Regions from separate parts of the Homo sapiens genome. Here region 1 is linked to region 2. Evidence: fine-mapped expression QTL. A gene starts in region 2. The other region holds a variant in brackets. All regions are shown on one strand. Distances are from middle to middle.

Region 1 (8,327 bases), 89 kb after region 2:
TATGAGATAGCCATGCCCCTCTAGATAACAATCCTCACCACATACAATTTTTCTCAAATGTTATAATTTTGTTTATTCTAGGAACTATGAAAAAAGATCACTGATGTTGCAACTATGACCTAGCATTCATCTCTAAAACTCAGAGGGTGCTTTGTTTACATTTCAAAAATTATGGAAGTTAACAAAAATCAGATTAAGCATAAAGGTAGTTCTCTATAACATAAAATAGAAATAAATTGGCCAGGCGCGGTGTCTCATGCCTGTAATCCCAGCACTTTGGGAGGCCAAGGCGGGTGGATCACTTGAGGTCAGGAGTTGGAGACTAGCCTGGCCAACATGGCGAAACCCCGTCTCTACAAAAAATATAAAATTAGCCAGGCATGGTGGCATGCGCCTATAGTCCTAGCTACTCAGGAGGCTGAGGCAGGAGAATTGCTTGAAGCCAGGAGGCAGAGGTTGCAGTGAACCGAGATTGTGCCACTGCACTCCAGCCTGGGCGACAGAGTGAGACTCCATCTCAAAAAGAAAAAGTAAGAAAGAAATCATTACAAGCATATTTTCAAAATATGCGACTCACTGTGGCTTCCTACAGAACGTCCATCTTCTCCCAGTCCTGGTGAGGAGAGACCCACACACCTTTGAGAATGCCCCAGACCTCCTTCCCCTTTGCTTTATGTTCAAGGAGATTTGCTGGTGAAGAACTCAAGTCACTGATTGGAAACGAGGGCAATAGAATGTCACAGCTGGAGAGGACCGTAGTGGTCCCTGAGTCCATTTTCTGCATCTTACAGATAAAGCCACAGAGACCCAGAGCAGCTCAGTTAACTTGCCAAAGGATACAGGCCCTTCAACTGCTCCAGCCACCTCCCATGGTGTCCACTTATTCCAATAATTTGAAAACCAGCGTCAGATGCTCGCAGCTGTCTAGAGTTGGAATAGGAATGGAAAATGGCCAAAGGCCAAAGAAAATGTTATAGGTCAGAGAAAATTGATATGCATATAAAAATTATGGAAAGTTTGCAAAGTTCATATATCATGTAAGAATATATTTTGTTTCCAAGTACATGAGAAATACTCTGTGGAGTAGGGTCAGGAATAGACTCAGATCCTGTGGTTCAAATCCTGACTGGCCCCCTCCTGTTGTTTCAGCTTCTTATCTGTGAAATCGGGATAACAATAGTGCCTTCTTCCTAGGGTGGGTATGAGGATTTAAATGCATTAGTATTTCTCAAGTACTTAGAATACCACCTGGCCATATTGAGCTCTGAATAAATGTTTAATAAATAAACGAATTCTTTATTCATTGAGTTTTTAAAGCAATATCAATTCTCAGTTACTGGCAGATGAATGTGATTCTAACTGCAATACAAAAATGTAATCTCCCCTTAGCTAATGAAGAAAGTAATGTTTCTATAATGGTTTATGTGTCAGGATGCCAAGTACCTGTTCCGCTTGTACATGGCTCTGAAGCAATACCGAGAAGCTGCCCAGACTGCCATCATCATTGCCAGAGAAGAGCAGTCTGCAGGTAGGTCCGTGATACGTATGTGTTACTTCCCAAGCAGGCAGCAGAATCAAGCCCCAGCCCCTTTTCTGTGTAGGAAAGAGTAGCCCCTACGTTTGTAACATAGGCTTGCTTTGAACCCAAAAGACTAAAGAGATGACCATTTCTAGGTTTCAGAGGGGTTAAACAATGTACTATCCCAGGAGACTGTATAAATGTAAGAGACTAAGACCATCTCTTGTCAAGTGCTATTTCCTCTCCCCCACAACCTCAGAGGTTCTGTCTCATGAATGATGTCTCCTCTCACCCCTCCAGCCCACAACCCCCTTCCTACAGTCTCACGGCATTTTCTTTCCATTCCCTGTGTTTGGCCTTAACAATATGAGACATTAGGCGATGGAGGGTAATGATGCGGTGCTGTTACAGACCTAGTTCTTTATAATATGCAGAGGCTTGATAGACTCTTCAGGATGGTTCTGCTCACATGTGCTCTGTCAATACTTATTGAGTGAGTAAGAGGATTAGTCTGATATCTTCATTAATTTTTATGAGCTGATCTTCTTAAATCTTTATAAATGTGGACACAATTTTGGAAAATATGCAGTCAAATAAGTCATTACTTTATTCAGCTTACGTTGATCTAACAACACCTTCTTCCTGTCAGATGCGTGCTAGGAGCTCAGGATACAGAGAGAACTGAGCCACAGTTCAACCCTCAAGGTCATGATTTGATGGGAGAGACAGAAAGTAAATTCAGAGTTGGACGGGATGACAAGTGCCAGACTAGAAAGAGAAATAGGCTGAAAAGGCACAATTAAAATAAGAGCGACTGCTGGGTTACCCACAGCATCCTGAAGGTTGGGGTAGGGAGAGTTGGAGGATGGAGACGAGAGAAGGCAATGAAAGCTTTACCTGAGTTTTGAAAGGATGGGGGAGCAGGTGACGAGGGGAGTGGAGGTTGCTGGGAGCCAGAGTGCTGGGATTTGGGGAAATGGGGAGGTGGGGAAGTGCTGGGATGAGGAAAAGTGCTGGCAAGGCTGCAGCATTTACACACCTGGAGAAGAAAGGGAGGGAAAATCAGGCCAGAAAGGAGCGCAGAGGCCGATCCTGAAGGGCACAAGTCCTCTGCTCAGGAATTTGCACTTCCAGGCGTGAGTGGCGCCATTGGAGGGTTTTATGCAGGGGTGTGACCTTGAGTTGTTTGGGTGTGGATCAAGGCTTGAGGGTTTTGAAGGCATACTCTGACATCAGATGTGGGCCCAGAGCAATCCTGATGAGCACTACAGCAGAAGGAAATGATGAGAAGCATTCACAGTAGGCATGGGAAGGGAGGCTGGAATTGGGAGACTGAGAGTTATACTCAGAACTCCATGGCCTGGTGGACTTCAGGGCCAGGGGGGTGCCCTGAGGAAGAGTAAGACATCAAGGAGGACACCACCATTTTTCACCAGAGCAACTGGCTAGATGTTCATAACATCAATTAAAATAGGAAATCTGGCCGGTCACAATGGCTCATGCCTGTAATCCCAGCACTTTGGGAGGCCGAGGAGGGTGGATTTCTTGAGCCAAGGTGTTTGAGACCAGCCTGGGCAACATGGTGAAAACCTTGTCTCTACAAAAAACACAAAAATTACCCAGGCATGGGAGGATCACTTGAGCTTGAGAGGCAGAGGTTGCAGTGAACAGAGATTGTGCCCTTGCACTCCAGCCTTGGTGACAGAGCGAGACCCTATCTCTGACAGACAGACAGACAGATAAATAGGAAATCTGCTGAGTTGCTTTGAATAAGACATTATTAAGAGATTACTAATAACAAGATTAACAAAATCCACTAGTAAGATGGGGGTCCATAGAATGTCCTCAGATGTCACCCTTTGCAGTAATGTCGTTTTACCACCTTTTTTCAAGGCAACTACCGGAATGCACACGATGTTCTCTTCAGTATGTATGCAGAACTGAAATCCCAGAAGATCAAAATTCCCTCCGAGATGGCCACCAACCTCATGATTCTGCACAGCTATATACTAGTAAAGGTGAGGCCCATGGAGTGACTTGGGACATAACCTGCCAGGTGTTTGTCCCCCATTGAGATTTTCTCCAGGCCCTTCTCCATTGGATTCGAGTGATTGTCTAGATGTCTGTATTGTTAAGTAACAAAACAAGATACAGAACATATCTACAATACGCTGCTTTGTGTGGAATGAGGCACGGGGCAGGAGGCACAG[T/C]ACCAAACTCCAGTGTGGGGACAGGGAGACGGGGAGATGAGGGGGACCAGGCTTCATCATGTGCATCTTATTATAGTGTGTGGGTTGTTTTGTTTTGTTTTTGAGACGACGTCTTGCTCTTTACCCAGGCTGGAGTGCAGTGGCACGTCCTCGGCTCACTGCAACCTCTGCCTCCCAGGTTCAAGCAATTCTTCTGCCTCAGCCTTCCAAGTAGCTGGGATTACAGGCACACACCACCACACCCAGTTAATTTTTTTGTATTTTTAGTAGATATGGGGTTTCACCATGTTGGCCAGGCTGATTTCAAACTTCTGACCTCAAGTGATCCGCCCGCCTTGGCCTCCCAAAGTGCTGGGATTACAGGCATGAGCCACCACGCTCAGCTTTCTTATATTGTTTTGATTTTGAAACATGTAAATGTATTGCCTGTGCCAGAAAAATAGATTTACTTAAAACATCTTTCTTTATGCAAAACTTGTTAGTTTATTTATTCTGTTAGTGGATTTCATAAAATTCCACTGTTTTGTAAATATTGTTTAGTTTTCATCCAAATATAAAAATAATACATATTCCCTAAGAAAGTTTAAAAAATATAGAAAAGAATTTTTTTTTTTTTTTTTGAGATGGAATCTCACTCTGTCACCCAGGTTGGAGTGCAGTGGCCCGATCTTGGCTCACTGCATCCTCCACCTCCCTGCTTCAAGCAATTCCCCTGCCTCAGCCTCCTGAGTAGCTGGGATTACAGGCAAATGCCACCACACCCGGCTAATTTTTTTGTATTTTTAATAGAGATGGGGTTTCACCACGTTGGCCAGGCTGGTCTCGAACTCCTGTCCTCAGGCAATCCACCTGCCTCGGCCTCCCAAAGTGCTGGGATTACAGGCGTGAGCCACTGTGCCCGGCCAGAAAAGAATTTTTTAAAAATTCGTCCTTTAAGTCCATCACCCAGATATAACAATTGTTAATAGTGTTGTATATATTCTTTGTACTTCTATAAATGCATGTTTTTTACCAAATTGGGATTATGTTTAGTTGTGTATATTCTGTTTTTTAAATCAGTAATTATCAATACAAACAAAAATAGATCCTGCAAACATCAAGTACTTGTATGTATAATTTACATAAATGAGGCTGGGCATGGTGGCTCACACGTGTAATCCCAGTACTTTGGGAGGACAAGGCAGGAGGATCACTTAAGCCCAGGAGTTTGAGGCTGCAGTGAGCTATAATCACACCATGGCACTCCAGCCTGGGCAACAGAGCGAGACCTCAACTCTAAAAAAAGACACAATACAACTTACATAAATGTCATGTATATTCATGTGTACATTTATATATATACATATCTCTGTAAAGATACAGGCAGACTCCAACTTACATATTTTTTCAAATATTCATTTATGTCGCAGTACATCTTTCCGTATTAATGCTAAATTGGTTCTCTGACCTGTCCACAAGAGCAGTCATGTTATGAATGATTTACATCCTAATTATTGTCTATATCAGCACTGTCCAGTAGAATGTTCTACAGTGATAGAACTATTCTATACTGTACTGCCCAATATGGTAGCCACTAACCTGGCTATGGAGCACTTGAAATGCAGCTAGTACAGCTGATAAACTACATTTTTAATTGTATATGATTTTAACTTTTAAATTTAAGTAGCCATACGTGATTAATGCCTACCACAGGAGACTGCACAGGTCTATAATGCTGATTCTAAGGGAAATGCATCTGGAGTTATAACTTGCAACCTCCAGGAGTACACTTCCCTTCAGAGAGGCAGGAGGATCCTTCTTCCATAAAGAAGGGGGTTTGAAGGAGAGAAGTCTTTCTCAGCTGCAGACATGAGTGGTGATTCAATGTCCTGGAAGCACAGAATCTAACAAAATGGAGTCTTTAGGAGTGCAGGGGGCACAGAAACACATTGGTGAAAGATGCGGGGCAAAAATAGGAATTCCTATAAGAGGCCCTCTTGCAACAGAGCTTTCTAGCACCATAAGCCACAGGGGTGCTTCTTGAGTCCTTTTCTTTTTCTCTGGCCCCAAGGGTTGGCATCATTCCACACTCTCACCAAGTATCCTCAGCCCTGACCCCACATCTGTCTGCTTCTCTCCATCCCCACTGCCCCACCTTTTTGGCCTCCTTGTCTCACCCCTGGATGACTGCAGTGGCTTCATGTCCTGGCCCCTGCTGACTCTCGAGGCTCACCCCATCCTAAACGCACCCCTCGATGTGTCACTGACCCTCCTGGTCCTTGCCCAGTCTCAGGCCTTCTGCCCGTCATTGCCCTCTTAGCACAGACACGGCGCCTTTCCTTTAGCAGATCATTCTCTCTCTCTCTACCTGATTCCTGACTCACACAGCTTTTGGGTCTTACCAGAACTTGGTGAAGTTGGTCCCCCAAGAATGGCCAGTAAGAGATAGACTGGGGATTTGAACCCATACCAAGTGGTCTAGGGCAAAGTGAAAAGCAGAGCATAGAGTAGGTGAGGCCATGGGGCCAGGCAGTAGCTGTTGAAGAGAAAAAAGTGGAGGGATCTCTAATGGCATCAGCCAGGAAAGTCTACAAGGATCCCACAGTGACCCTGGGCCATCATCAAGGAGTTGTTTATTTGGGGGAACAAAGCATGAATTGGGGCTAATCAATGACTATAAGAAGAGTAAAATATGTCATTTGTTTCAGATTCATGTTAAAAATGGAGATCACATGAAAGGGGCTCGCATGCTCATTCGGGTGGCCAACAACATCAGCAAATTTCCATCACGTAAGTACCACTGACCAGAGCTCTCACCCATGCCCCATGCCCCATGCCGCATGCTAGCCCAGCGCCCCTTTTGCAGGCTCCCCTCATACACTAACTCGTTTAATTCTCACAGCAGCTCCATGAAGTGGTATGTCAGGGCCCCAAGACCACTCCCAGGTTTGATGACTCTTCACTGGGAGGATTTACAAGAGTCAACACACAGTAGTACCAAAGCCGAGATTTATCACAGCAAAAGGATCTGAGGCAAAATGAGCAGAAGGATTCACGCAAAGGCGAGCAGGTGCAGGCACGGACCTCCAAGAGTCCCTTCCCAGTGGAGCACACAGGACGCAAGTTCCGTAACTCCTCCACGACTGACTTGTACAACATGGTGAAACGTAGAGTGCCAAGAAGCTCATTAGAGACTCAGCAGCCAGGAGTTTTATTGGGGTGTGGTCACATAGGTGCCCCCTGCGTGGCATGTGCCCAGTTTTCCAGGCTCCCAGAGAGCAGGTGTTCGGCATAAACCACGTTGTTTGTACAAAGATTTTAGGCACGGTGAGCCACTCATCAGTTCTGGAAACGGTGGGAACCGTCTCCAAATCTATGTTCCAGATGCGAGCCGAGGGTTAGCTGTTCAAGCCTTTCCAAGGATGACAGTCTCAGGCCTGCACACACAAGTACTTTTCTGAACAAACTGGGACAAAAGAAATAACATTTGCCCAAGATCACATTGTCAGCTAATAATAGCCTGACTCTGTGTTCACAAGCACGGTAGGACGTTGCCTCTGAAAAGGCCTCACTATTCCAAAAGACATGTCATGATAACATTCTTAAGTGATTAAATACTGTCACATTACATGACAGGGATCAGCAAACTTTTTCTGTAAAGGACCAGATGTTAAATATTTTAGACTTCGTGAGACATGTGGCCTCTGTCACAACTGCTCAACTCTGCCATCTTCTCATGAATAATACGTAAACGAATGGGCATGACTGTGTTTCAATAGAGCTTTATGTTTGGACACAAATGTTAACCACATACACTTTTAACATGTCACAAAAATATTTTTCTTTTGATGTTTTTTCAACCATTTAAAAATGTAAAAATCATCCTTAGCTCATGGACCATACAAAAAGTCAGAGGGCTAGATTTGGTCCATGGGTCATAATTGGCCAACCCACATTCTCTAAGTGTATTTTTGTTGTTGTTACATCAAAGTCTACCATGCGGGCAAGGTATGGGATAGGACAGGCACTCTCATGACTGCTGGTGGGGATGGAAATTGGTATGGCCTTTGCAGAAAGCAGTTTGGCAATTTGTGGTAAGAGTATTTTTTAAAAGGTCCTGTTTTTGAGCCGGTAATTCTGGGTGTCTGTCCTGAAGAAAGAATTTGATGCCTGCAGAGAGATTAGTGTATAAAGTCATTAATCCCCCTAATGCTTTTATCAGCAGTCCTGTCAGATGCAAAAAATATCTAAGAGGCATGAAAGGAAACTCATGGAAGTGTTGCCTCAAGGGGTGCAGGTCCTAGTGTTACAAGGCAGAACATGGTGTCATCAAAGGAAAAGCACTTGATGGGCAGTTAGCCTGACCCCACAGCTACGTACTTTCCTCATTAAACAGATCATATCTGGTTCTTTGCAGAAAAAGCAAAGTTCAGAGACCATGACCCTGTTTTCCTACAGAACCAGGGTGGAATCCCGCCTGTATCACTGAGGACAGCAGACACTGTGCTGTTGCTGCTCTCCCCTTTTCTCTTGCAGACATTGTACCCATCCTGACGTCAACTGTGATTGAGTGTCACAGGGCAGGCCTGAAGAACTCTGCTTTCAGCTTCGCAGCTATG
Region 2 (8,337 bases):
CATATTGCAATTAAACTATGAAACGATTCTGAATTTTTTTTTTCTATTTTGAAGATACTTTTATTTTTAAGGAGGAATTAGTTTCTCTTCAGATGTTCATTTTTGACTCTGAAAATTTTAATTTTTTTTGGTCTAGACTGGTTTGAAACAGTGACATTATTTTGTGTACTAGGATGTCCTCTTGTTTGGACAGATTTATATACTAATTAGAAAGCTGCTAACACCCTTATTTCAACTCACTGAGATAATTTAGATTCTTAAAACATAAGGAGAGATAACTTGTTGGAAACATTTTTATAACTTTAGTTAAAAACAGTATAAAAAACATAAAACACTTTTTTTTTTTTGAGACAGGGTTTCACTCTGTCACCCAGGCTGGAGCACAGTGGCGTGATCATAACTCAGTGCAGCCTTGAATGCCATGTGATACCCTCAAAGGATTCTCCTGGCTTAGCCTCCCAAGTAGCTGGCACTGTAGGCACATGCCACCATGCCTGGCTAATTTTTATTTATTTATTTTTTTTTGTAGCAAAGGGGTCTTGCTTTGTTGCCCAGGCCATTCTCAAATTCCTGGGCCCAAGTGAACCTCCCACCTCTGGCCTCCCAAAGTGCTGGGATTACGGGCTTGAGCTGCTACTCCTGGCCATGAAACACATTAAAACATTTTTAAGTCTACATGAAACAACTGTACCTCCTTCATAGTACAGGATCAACTTCCTCATCCTTACACAAAAATATTTCTCAATCCCATTTACTGATATTCAGGGATTTGAATCCTCATATAGTGTTTCTGTAAAAATGTGTGTGTGTGTTTTACATTAAATCATAAATCACTAGTATTGTTTGAGTAACCCCCAAATAATGTTTACATGAAATACTCTTTTTTTCAAGTCTTGATCTGATTACTGACCACTACATCCTTGTGGTATCAAAACACTTAGAACTAAAGTAGCTTTACTGTTGAGTCAGGAGGAAAATGCATGGCAAGAACAGTTCCAGTTTGAAAAAAGGCAGGTCAAGATCCTTTCACCAAAGTTAGCCATTTTGAGTTTGGCATCTAATCAATGAGGAGTGGACTCCTTCACTTGTGAAGGATAATTTTACAGGATACAGAATTCTAGATTTGTGGGTTTAAAAAAAATTCTCAACACTTTAAATATTTTATTCCGCTCTCTTCTTCCTTTCATGGTTTCTGAGAATTCAATGTAATTCTTATCTTACCTCCTCTATACATAATGCCCCCCTCCCCTCAGCTTCTTTCACGATTTTTGAAAAATATTTTATTTTTCAAAGTTTAAATATGATATGCCTAGGTGTGGTTTATTGAGCACTTATCCTGTTTGGAGTTCTCTGAGCTTCCAGGAGGTGTGATTTGTTGTCAGACATGAACTTGGGGGAAATTAATCATGAGCATTCTTCATTTCTGTTAGTGTTTTTGATCTCTAGCATTTCTTTTTGAGTCTTTATTAGAATTTCTATCTCTCTGCTTGTGTTTTCCATCTGCTCTTGCATGTTGTCTACTTTTTCCATTACCTCCAGTAGCACATTCATCTTATTTTTTTTTTAAAGTCCTGGTCTAATAATTTCAACACTCCTGCTATATATGACTCTAGTTCTCCTGCTTGTTCAGTCTCTTCAAGCAGTGTTTTTTGCCTTTTAGTATGCCTTGTAATTTTTTGTTGAAATCTGGATGCTATGGTTTGAATGTCCCCTCCAAAGCTCATGTTGAAACTTAATCACCAATGTGGCAATATTGAAAGTTGGGGCCTTTAAGAGGCAAATGGTTCCTGTGTGCCCTGCTTTCATGAATGGATTAATTCATTCAAAGATTCAGGGATTAATGGGTTAATGAATTAGTGGGTTATCATGGGAGTGAAATTGGTGGCTTTATAAGGAGACCTTAGCTAGAACGTTAGCACACTCAGCCTCCTTGCCATGTGATATCCTGTGCTGCCTCAGGACTCTTCAGAGAGTCCGCACCAGCAAGAAGGATCTCACCAGATGCACTCCCTTGACCTTGGACTTCTCAGTCTCCCTAACTATGACAAATGAGTTCCTTTTCTTTATAAATTACCCGGTTTTATGTATTCTGTCATAAACAACAGAAAACAACTAAGACACCAGACAGGATATACTGGATAAAAGGAATACTTGTAAGTAGTCTTTTAGTGGTATGTGGTAAGGTACAGGATAGGGCAAGTGTTCTATAGTCCTATGATTAGGCCTCAGCCTTTAGTGAGCCGGTGTGGATGGTAAAAGTCACCAGTACTTCCTTTTTTTTTTGAGACGAAGTCTAGCTCCGTCACCAGGCTGGAGTGCAGTGGCACAATCTCGGCTCATTGCAACCTCTGCCTCCCAGGTTCAAGCGAGTCTCATGCCTCGGCCTCCCGAGTAGCTGGGATTACAGGCATGTGCCACCACGCCAGGCTAATTTTTTTTTTTTTTTTTTTTTTTTGAGCAGAGTCTTGCCTTGCTCTGTCGCCAGGCTGGAGTGCAGTGGCACGATCTAGGCTCACTGCAACCTCCCCCTCCCGGGTTCAAGCGATTCCCCTGCCTCAGCCTCCCGAGCAGCTGGGACTACAGGTGCCCACCACCATGCACAGCTAATTTTTTGTATTTTAGTAAAGACGGGGTTTCACCATGTTGGCCAGGCTGGTCCTGAACTCCTGACCTCAAGTGAGCCCCCCACCTCGAACTCCCCAAGTGCTGAGATTACAGGCGTGAGCCACTGAGCCTGGCCACCAATACTTCTTTTTGCTGTTTTTTTTGACGGAGTCTCGCTCTATCGCCCAGGCTGGAGTGCAGTGGCGCGATCTCCGCTCACTGCAAGCTCCGCCTCCCGGGTTCACGCCGTTCTCCGGCCTCAGCCTCCCGCGTAGCTGGGACTACAGGCGCCCGCCAATACTTCTTAATCTCCCACACTTAAGTGGAACAGGATGGTTTATGGAGGCTGAAGTTGAGTATTTCCCTTCTCCCAGGTAGTTTAGGCTCTGATAAAACCCCAGCAGACTAGGCTTTGGTAAAAATACTTTCTCCTGAGGGCAGGTCTTGTTAAGAACTGATTGCTCTGGCTATTTTTAAATGGTTACCCTTTCAGCAGAGGAATCTTTCAGTAAAAATTTAAGTAATTAACCTAACTGTCAGAGGCGTTTGAACCAGAGCGATTCCATTTTGAGTGAGGGCTAGGAAAATGAGGCTGAGACTTGCTGGGCTGAATTCTCAGAATTTGGGCATTCCTCGCCTCTAGATGTTTACGATTAAGGGAATAAATTAATAATGTTTACTAAAACAGACCCAGATATCGGGATATCTGGAGAACAAAGGCATTCCTAATTTTGCTTTAAAGATAATAATATCAATTCCTGCAAAATAATTAAGAAAATTAATCTTTGATCACAAACCCTTGTAGCAGAGCACATCTCCCCATATATACAAGCATTGTACCTAGGGTGGATGCGTCCCTTCTCTTGCTTTCAGGAATGTCCTACTCTGTCTATGGAGTAGCTGTCCTTTCACCACTTTACGTGTTTTAATAAACTTGCTTTTCTCAGCACTGAGAACTCGCCCTGAATTCTTTCTTGCGCGCGATCCAAGAACCCTCTCTTGGGGTCTGGATCCGGACCCCTGTCGTAACGTAACTGAAAACCCCAGTGCAAAGGCATAGCACCCTACTTAAGAATTTGCAAACATTCATTATTAGTTATTTCAAATCATTGATTAACTTTCTCTAAGCCAATCAGATTCCTACCTGATGTCGAAAAGAAAAGCAAAAGGTAGACTGTTTCAACACTTTCAGACGCTTGGGTAAAAGATGCACTTTCATGCTATAAATAATGCAGCACAAATACTGTACAACAGGGCTTTATACTTGGGGAAAAGCTGCCAGATCCAAACTCTAAAGGAAAACTATTGGAGCTCATTTTTCCTGCCCACGTTAGCTAGCACATTTTGTTGACATTGAAAAAAAAAAAAGATTTTGGTGAAACTGAAAAAAAAAAAGCACCAACAACCCTACCTTGAAATAAACTATTGTACCTCTTATGCCTCCTCCCTTCTACCCCAGAAACCTGGAAGAAAAAAAGATATACCCGAGCTCGTCCAACCCCTCTTTGCGTGGACTGTATAGGAGTATTTAGCCCATCCTGCCTCCTTTAATCTAACATTCTGCGTCTTCTTTCCTTCAGCTTCTCGGCGCCCCCTTTGGCCAGCACTGACATCTTAGTCATCGCGGTCCAAAATTTACGCACGCGCCTTTGAGGGCTCACAGAGCCCGTCTCTCCCGGACGAATCTCATCCAATCAGAGCCAGCCAGGAAGCCGAGGCTCAGCAAGGCCTCGCGACGCCCAACTTCCCAGGGTTAGCGTCTCTGATGTCATGTGATTCCACCCTCCGCCTCTCACCCACCCTCGCAGAGGGCGGTGCGCTTGGCCCGGCCCCTCGAGGCACCGCCTTTCAATTAGCACTCGCTGATTGGTCGCTGCTCGCGCGGTCTCCTGGGTGACGGGAACGCGGTAGCCTGCTTGGTGGAGACCGGGTGCGCCTGCGTACTTCATAGTTCGCGTAGCGGCTCGAGCGTGGAGATGAAGGTAAATAACTTACAAATTCCCGGGGTGGGGCGGGAAAACGCGACTACTGGCCCTTGGTCGCTTTTAAAAGAGGATATCTGTCCCTCTCCCTTCTGAGTTCGTTGGAAATGAGGAAGAGAGAGAGAGAGAGAGGTGGCCAGAGAGAGCGGGGGCGAAGCTGAAGGGACGAGAGAAAGGAAAGAAAATAGGAGGAGAGGAGAGGGCGGAGAGAGAGGCCTCTCGTTTTGGGGACTGCAGACGCCGTAGAAGCGGTGCAGAAAGTGGGAACCCCTCCCTGGCCGAAATGAGCGGACTGGATCTAAAGATACCCCAGCTTCGCACGCGGAAAGAACTGGTCGAGTTAACGCGTTTGGAGGGTCGCTGTGAAGTTGACTGGGTCCGATGTCACGAGCTACCTCATTTCTTGGGGCTAAGCCTCTGGCAAGCCGCGCAGCTGCCCAGCGCCTTAAAAAGAATGAAAAGCCTCCTAAAGAATAACTTCAAAATGTATTACCTGTGACCAGTCCAATCACCTGCTAGCGAGTGTACATTATTGACGGGAAATCTGCACCCGAAAACTCAGGTCTCACGCTCATGTGCCTCATCCTCTGCACGCACGGTTTCTAGGCTTGGGCTTCTTGTTCACCCCACTTTCTGATTTATCAGAGCAGTCCCCCCTTGCTCTGCTCTGGCAAAGAAATGGAAGGCTTTTTTTTTTTTTTTTTTTTACTGAGTCTCGCTCTGTTACCCAGGCTGGAGTGCAGTGGCGCAATCTCTGCTCCCTGCAACCTCCACCTCCTGGGTTCAAGCGATTCTCCTGCCTCAGCCCCCCGAGTAGCTGGGACTACAGGCGCGTGCCACCACACCCAGCTAATTTTTTGTATTTTTAGTAGAGATGGGGTTTCACCGTGTTAGCCAGGATGCTGTCACTCTCCTGACCTCATGATCCCCCGACCTCGGGCTCCCAAAGTGCTGAGATTACAGGCGTGAGCCACCGCGCCCGGCTGGAAGGCTCAATTTTAAAATTATTTTAGATGTCCTCATGCTTCTTCGTGGCTATTAGTGTGGAAATTGGAATTGACGGACCAGTAATCATAACTCCCATTTTTATTTCTAAAGCTCTTTACAATTTATGAAATATTAGAAGTGAAGAGTTATTATTCATGATTTACAGTTGAGAATTTTTTGCTGGAGGCAATTTAAACGACTTACTTAAAGCCCTACAGCTAATAAGCTACAAACAAAATTTAAGTCTTGGTTTTTTGGTTGTGAAACTAGCAGTTTTTCCTCTGCACGGTATGTGGAGCATCTATAGAGCTCCACTGAAAAAAAATAATATGAAATCACAGCTAGAGGCAAGTCAGCCATTGAAGGTAATGAAATTCAAGTTTAAGGACTTCTCACTTGCATGAAGGAGTTCCAGGGTGAAATGGTCACAAAATTGCAAAAGTAAGATGCTTTTAAATATTCTTTCTTCATGAGTTTCTTTATGCTCTATAAAACTTTTATGTCCCATGATCATAGCCCACCTCTACTTTCAATAGAGGGGAATTTCTTCTTTAGCATGTAAAATGCTCATTGGGACAGGGTGCGGTGGCTCACGCCTGTAATCCCAGCACTTTGGGACGCCGAGGCAGGTGGATCACTTGAGGTCAGGAGTTCGACACCAGCCTGGCCAACATGGTGAAACCCTGTCTCTACCAAAAATATTTTTAAAATTAGCCGGGCGTGGTAGCGTGTGCCTGTAATCCCAGCTATTCGGGAGGCTGAGGCAGGAGAATCGCTTGAACCCAGGAGGCGGAGGTTGCAGTGAGCCAAGATCGCCCCACTGCACTCCAGAGCCTGGGCGACAGAGCAAGACGCTGTCTAAAAAAAAATAAAAATAAAAATAAACAACCTCACTGCTTTGTGTTTGGTTGTTGGTTGTTAATTTATTTATTTTGAGACGAAGTCTTGCTCTGTCACCCAGGCTGGAGTGCAGTGGCACCATCTCGGCTCACTGCAACCTCCACCTCCCGGGTTCAAGGGATTCTCGTGCCTCAGCCTCCCAAGTAGATGGGATTACAGCAAGCGCCACCATGCCCAGCTCATTTTTTGGTAATTTTAGTAGAGACGAGGTTTCGCCATGTTGGCCAGGCGGTGTTTAATTTTGAGCATTGTAAGAGTTTTGTGTTGCCGCACAGACTAAGTCCCGTGTAACAGTATCTAAATTTCATATGCCTAGAAATGGGCATCATTGTTTAATCTATAATTTAACCTAATATTGAAATCTAAATTTTTTCACTGAAACTCATATTCCTAAATGTTCTAGATCAACACTGTCTGATATAAATGTACTGTGAGCTAATGTAATTTCATATTTTTATTGACCATTAAAATTTTTTAAGAAAACAGGTAAAATTTATTTTAATAATATATTTTATCTTACCCAGTATATCAAAAATGTTATTTCAACATGTAATCAATATAAAAATTAACAACGAGATAGTTTACATTCTTTTTCCAGTTGTTGAAATCTGATATACATTTTATATTTACAGCACAGCTAGGTTGGGATTACTTATATTCCAAGTCCTCAATAGCTACATGTGGTTTGTAGCCTCCATATTGGACATCACGTTTCTTGATTGTTTCAAGGAAAAGAAAGAGTTTTCAGTTGATAACACTATTCACCCAGTAGCCAAGTTAAACACTTAATGATGATGTAAATATAACTAATGGAACTAATAGAAGAAAATAATGTTGAAAGGAGTAAAGACATTTTGTGTTTTTATCATGTTTAAGATAGCAATTTTTGTTCAGTTTAATCACCAGGAATCCGTGCCACAGATAATTAACTGAATTCAGGCTTCAATTATTTTAGTCTTTAACATCTACAAAACACTAAAATTACATATTTTTGTAAAATTAACATTCAGAAACATTAAAAAGCCAAAAAAAATTTAAAATAAAAGCCCTCCTATATCTTGAGATCTGTAATTTACCAAGTAGTTGTGTATGTTTAGTTGGTTGGTTGATTTTGTTTTATTTCTTTTGTTGTTAACTTCTAGATAAGCTCTAACATAATCCTCACTATCCTGAATCCTATGAAAACATGGTTTTCATGACCATGTTTTGATACCTTTTCTGATCAACACTTGATTGTATGTTTTGAAAATATTAAAAATTGTGTTTATTTTTTAGCGTATTTTCTCACTGCTAGAAAAGACTTGGCTTGGCGCACCAATACAGTTTGCCTGGCAAAAAACATCAGGAAACTACCTTGCAGTAACAGGGTAAGAAACCAATGAATGTTTTAAGCAGTGGTTGCATGCCCATGTAATCACACCATCTACTCAGTAGAAGTTTTTTTTGTTGTTGTTTTTTTTTTTTAAATGGAGTCTAGCTTTGTTGCCCAGGATGGAGTGCAGTGGCACGATCTCAGCTTGCTGCAACCTCCGCCTCCCAGGTTCAAGTGAACCTGGCCTCAGTAAAAGTTTTTGTCTAACAGTTATATGACAGGAAAAGGAATATATTCATCTCCATTAACATGAAAGTTCATAGAACCTTTTCCCTGGTAATAACTTTTTATGCAAATTCTGAAACTATCAGGAGAAAACACTGAAATCATTTGGATGGCAGCTTTATATACATAGATAAATGAAAGAAACATTTAGGCCAGGTGCAGTGGCTCATGCCAATAATCCCAACACTTTGGGAGGCCAAGGCAGGCAGATCACTTGAGGCCAGGAGTTTGAGACCAGCCTGGCCAACATGGTGAAACGCCATCTCT

The links. PIP is the estimated chance that this variant, and not a neighbour inherited with it, causes the effect. A credible set is the group of variants that fine-mapping cannot tell apart.
Region 1: its variant is the best candidate, but not a certain one, in a credible set for the expression of WDR19 in whole blood (INTERVAL, PIP 0.66).

The regions. Positions count from the first base shown.
Region 1 is chr4:39,266,564-39,274,890 of GRCh38, forward strand. WDR19 (WD repeat domain 19) reads left to right here. Exons shown (of 37, transcript NM_025132.4): 30 at 1,432-1,528; 31 at 3,413-3,537; 32 at 6,417-6,498; 33 at 8,245-8,327. Among named protein-coding and RNA genes, the nearest start is that of WDR19, 88 kb to the left of the region's middle. The variant T/C (reference allele first, on the strand shown) is at 3,730.
Region 2 is chr4:39,177,978-39,186,314 of GRCh38, forward strand. It overlaps WDR19 (WD repeat domain 19), which reads left to right and starts at 4,552. Exons shown (of 37, transcript NM_025132.4): 1 at 4,552-4,586; 2 at 7,749-7,840. The coding sequence starts at 4,581. RefSeq lists enhancers at 4,221-4,400, 4,252-4,546, 4,671-4,820, 5,521-5,590.